Linked DNA regions of Homo sapiens: region 2 is linked to region 1. Evidence: fine-mapped expression QTL. Tissue or cell type: blood mononuclear cells. Region 1 holds a variant in brackets; the other region holds the start of a gene. All regions are shown on one strand. Distances are between the middles of the regions.

Region 1 (2,762 bases):
AATCATTATTGTTCTCGACTACATTCATCAAGGTCAAGTCCTCTGTCTTTAACAGTCTTTTAGAACCAATAGGCTACGGGGCAGCACCTGTTCTGATCTTTAGCACCCATACTCACCCTGAATCTGTACAAAGCTTCTAAATAAGTATGTGAAGATACTTTATTATTTCCCCCATTCATTTCTGATTATCTGAATATTTGTCTTAGAATAAACATGGAGGAAACAAACCAATAATTAATTTGGATGAGCTTTCCCAAATCATCAACTCCTTGGGACCAGGATTTTTTTGTAGAAATGCTTTGGAAAGCCCAATTTTATATGAAGAATTTTAAAATAAAAATATCTCTCAGAAGAGAACCAAAAAAGTGAAAGAAAAATAAAATACATACAAATGGGAAGATAAATAGAGTCAGAGACACATTGTCTGGCCCATCTAGAAATTTAATCTAAGAAGAGGTGCTTGATGCATGGAAAGGCTTTTGAAGGTGGCAAGAATGATAAGGACAAATACATACTTTGAAAAAATATGATTTAAGTGGTTAAACCCTGGCTATGTTAAGGCATAAGATCAATAGATGTGCTAGTGTATAAATGACATCAATCGCCACCATTTATTGGTGTCTAGTTTGAGTTAGCAGACACTACATCAAGCACATTATCTTTGCCCTCATAGCAAACCTCTTATAGATAGTTCTTATTTTCACTTTACAGAGGAGGAGGCTGAAGCTAGAAGGGAATTAAACAACTTGGCCCAAGTTTCAAGGCTGGAAAATGGAAGTAGCCCTTTCCCTATACCACACAAGCACTCTGGGAGCTGCAGGTAGAAAAGTGTACAAAGGATATTCTCTGGGTAATTGCATTACAGTCATGACCTGAGCAGGGTTTAGCTGGTAGCTTTACCCCAAATCAGGTAAGAGGCATGGACAAAAGATATTCGCGTGCAATTTTAAATATTATGACATTTGTATGTGATTTTGAATATGGTCCTCTTTGCAATTAATTTTCCTAATAGTAAAATACTCACATTATTTATTAATTCATATAACTAGTCTCTTTCTCCCCACAAAGACTAAGGTGCATACAATATTTTCGTTTTAGAAGAAGACAACTGAATAAAAAGAAAATAAAGGTAAAAAAAATAAGACGTAGCTGTTAACATAGTTCATACACAAAATGCATGTTGCAAAGGCCTGTGAACTTTGGCCTTGAGTTTTCTGGACAGCCCATGAGATAAAGAAAATGAGATCCGGCCGGGTGCGGTGGCTCACGCCTGTAATCCCAACACTTTGGGAGGCCAAGGTGGGCAGATCACCTGAGGTCAGGAGTTCACGACCAGACTGGCCAACATGGTGAAACCCCATCTCTACTAAAAAATACAAAAATTAGCTGGGCGTGGTGGTGGGAGCCTGTAATCCCAGCTACTCTCGGGAGGCTGAGGCAGGAGAATTGCTTGAACCTGGGAGGCGGAGGTTGTAGTAAGCCAAGATCACGCCACTGCACTCCAGCCTGGGCGACTAAGCAAGGCTCCATCTCAAAAAAGAAAAAGAAAAAGAAAGAAAGAAGGAAGGAAGGAAGGAAAATGAAATCCGTTATATGATTTATAAGTATCCATAAAAT[G/T]AAATCAAGCCCACTGTTTCCCATACTGGGACCTCAGAGAGATTTCTCACCAGGGTCTTCATAACGGGTTATATAACACAGTAAATCATACAGCATCATGACATATCATCTTTACAGTAAATATAGTGAGACCACAGCTTGTTTCTAGTACAGCATCACTTATGTGCTATTATTCTTTCTCTAAAGTCTAACACTTTAAAGTATATGATGTGGCTTTTAAGGCCCATCATGATCTAACCCCAAATGGCTCTTTCACTCTCATTTCCTACTATATCCTTTCATGAATTCTCCTGAACAGCCTCTCTGGGCCACTCAGTCATTCCTGAGTATCTTTGATTTTTCTGTTCTTTCATCCTATTTACTCATTGTTATTCACCTTCATCTCTGACATTCAAAATACAAGTCAGGAAAGGCAGAGAGTAAGTTATACACACCTGGTGGGTGGTATATTTTGGACAGGCTTTATTAGCCTCTCCTCCAAGTTTGCACTACTATCAATACAACTTCAATCATTCATTTGTTCTGCAAATATTTATTGAACACCTATTATGTACCTGGCACTGAGGGTACAAGGGAAGCAATAAAAATTTAATACATCCCTTGCTTTATGAAACTTCCAATCTGGTGAGTGAAAAAAAAATGTTGGTTTTGTCAAAAAAGAAAAGAAAAGCGCAACTCTATGAAACACTATGAAGTCAAGATACATAGCTCCATAAGAGGGAATATTGGCGCATCCTAAAGTAGTGTGGGGAGCAGGGATGGCTTTCTTCTGGAAAAGATGTTTGATGTGAGATCTGATGAGTGAATGGACTTTATCTAAGCAAAGCTGGGAAAGGACATTCCAAGCAGAAGTAGGAGTAAGGACAAAGGCCCTGAGAACCCCAGGATCCTGCTGTGTTCTAGGACCAGGAAGAGTCCAGTGTGCCTGGCGCACAGCAGAGAAGTGGGAGAATGGTGAGAAATGAGGCTGAAGAAGTGGCAGGTACCTGGCCATGCAAGGCCTTCAAGGCCACATTAAATGATTGAAAGATTATTTATTTATTTATTTATTTATTTATTTATTTTGAGACAAAAGCTCTGTCACCCAGGCTGGAGTGCAGTGGTGTGATCTTGGCTCACTGCAACCTCCACCTCCCAGGCTCAAG
Region 2 (2,500 bases), 56 kb before region 1:
GCAATATGCTGCGTGCTTAATTTGTGTTCAGAAAGGCCTTGCACAATCACTCAGGCTTATTTTTGCTCTAAGGACAAATGAGGAGAAGCAAGGCCTAATACAGGCTGGAACAGGTATGTCAACCTCATTAGGATGGCCTGGGGGGTCATGTCCCTGGAATCAGTGCCACACTGAACTGCAAACTAACCTGCCAACCCTGTATCTGGAAACCACTTTTGTAGGACAGCTGTTCTCTCATTCCTTTTGCTTAGATCATAAAAGTAGAGTTTTCATCCATTGGGAATTTGTGTGTTAGACGCGAAGGGAATCAGATTCTGATCCAACTTGGTCAGGAAAAAAAAAAATAAGGGCTGATTTTTCCATCCAAGTCATGTAGTCTGGTTGGAGTGCATCCCACTCAGGGACAGCTATTGTCTGGATTCACCGAGTCTCAGTCTTGCCCGGGAAAAAGGAATTTTTCGCCTCACTGCTCTGTCCGTGAGAAGAGTTGCAGAAGGTGACCATTTCTGTTTTCTGGGTGATTCTCTTTCTCTATAGAAATCCTAAAATGGAACCTTTATAGAAATTATGTTCTGTGCTTCGCTGGAGAGAGACTGGTCTTTTTAACCAGGCTCATCAAACAGTGGGCATTTTCGTTCTCCTGGATAATAAGTGTTGGTGGGTTAATGGGTCATCCTCAGGACAGAGGTCAGAAGGAAAAACACTGCAGTGTTCAAAGCTGGAGCTAGAAATGCCAGCCGTCAAAGAACACAGAACTCAGTGGACGGTGATGATGTATAGGGCGTGCACTGGCCAACCCCATCCGAGAGGTCACATCTAACCTTTATCCTCAGCAAAGCCACTGAAGGTCGCTCAATATGTGTGACCCGCAACTCTGAGGCCCTGGTGAGAAGCTGTCCAGGAAAACGCTGGTGCGTGTGCTAGAGGGTTCCTTTTCACTAAGGGAGAATTGTCTTCCAGCTCCTTGCAGACTGACATCGCAAAGTACTTTGAACGTTGAAAAGAACAAAAAAAGCAAACAGTCACACACACACAAAAAGTAGGCGGGAGGAGGGGGAAAGAAAAAGGGACAGAGAGAGAGAGAGGTATCAGCAGGGGTGGTTAGTAAAAAGGGGCCCGGAGACAGAAAACCTTTTGTTCCCGGAGTTCGTTTCATGTAGAGATTGTGAGGTGAATGGCTTTGAAACGAAATGGGTTTATGAAGGAGTTGCTAGGTCACAGGAAGCGCGACTGTCAGACTGCTTTTGTGAATTCAGTTTCTTTAAAATTTGGGTTAATCTTAAAAAGAATGTATCTCCTTTTCCTGTTCTTTCTCTTTCTGTCTTCTTTTTTGGCGGGGGCGGGAGGACAGAGTAAGGTTCAGGACGGTTCCCCACTTTCTGTTTTATTTTCCACCGTCTGATAAAGCAAAAAGAAGCGATCACATTACAAGTTCTTTGTCAGTTTTTCAGAATTAGGGGTGGGCAGGGCCTGAGCATTACCTTGTCCCACTAGCCAATGGCGGGGCGGCATGCAAATGAGGTCCGCGATCAGCCTGCCTCAGTCACAACAGTGAGCTCAGAGACTTGAGGGAGGCGCTGCGACTGACAAGCGGCTCTGCCCGGGACCTTCTCGCTTTCATCTAGCGCTGCACTCAATGGAGGGGCGGGCACCGCAGTGCTTAATGCTGTCTTAACTAGTGTAGGAAAACGGCTCAACCCACCGCTGCCGAAATGAAGTATAAGGTAAGAGAGTGCCTTTTACAGGTTACCTTGCAAGCTGAAAGCTGTGCCTGCGGGTGTGTGCTTGTGTATGCGTGTTCCTTACTGTCAGTCCCTTGTGTGTCCCGGAGAGTTCTAAGATGAGTCTCGGTCACTGAGGTTGACATGCAAGCAGACAAGCAAGCAGAGACCCGGTCTTTGAGACCCACTCCAGGGGTTCACAGTACACCCGAGTCCATCTGCTCTGAAAGTTGCCGGGGAAATACCTCGGTGAGAAGTTAAGACTTGGAGCCGCTTCACAGCAGCCACTGGAGATCAGAGGGTGTCTGACTTGAATCGCGGCAGGCATTGGCTCAAGTCTCCTTGGCTTCCCCAGGCCTGGCTTCCACTGCCCTGGGGAACTGTAATGAGAGGAATGAGGACTGCATAGTCTGTCTCAGACTGGCTCTTAGTGCAAAGTTTTCCAGACTTTGCTTTAATCGTTTGGTCTCGGAAGGAGTATGCCATATGCACTTTTGGTGGGAGAAATTAAAAGCCCAGATTACACAGCTGAGGATGGAAAATTTTGACATCCTTATGTTATATTGGATGTAGGAATAAATAAGTATGAGCCATTTCTTGAAAACATTTTTATTGGAGTTTGAATGGGGTGAGAGTGCGAAGGCTCAGGCTGGCTCATTGTGCCTGAAAGCTTACAGAGTGTCATAGTCATAGTACTTCAGCAGCATTATTTTCCAATGCATTTTACACCATTGTTTGTGGATTTTTCTTGCCAAAAGGATTTTTGACTTGCTCCGTAT

The links. PIP is the estimated chance that this variant, and not a neighbour inherited with it, causes the effect.
Region 2: it holds the start of NEDD9, and the variant in region 1 is fine-mapped to the expression of NEDD9 in blood mononuclear cells (TOPMed, PIP 0.94).

What each region holds. Positions count from the first base shown.
Region 1 is chr6:11,175,327-11,178,088 of GRCh38, reverse strand. No RefSeq gene overlaps it. Among named protein-coding and RNA genes, the nearest start is that of NEDD9, 56 kb to the left of the region's middle. The variant G/T (reference allele first, on the strand shown) is at 1,618.
Region 2 is chr6:11,231,728-11,234,227 of GRCh38, reverse strand. It overlaps NEDD9 (neural precursor cell expressed, developmentally down-regulated 9), which reads left to right and starts at 1,560. Exons shown (of 7, transcript NM_006403.4): 1 at 1,560-1,724. The coding sequence starts at 1,713. RefSeq lists silencers at 1,473-1,522, 2,003-2,052.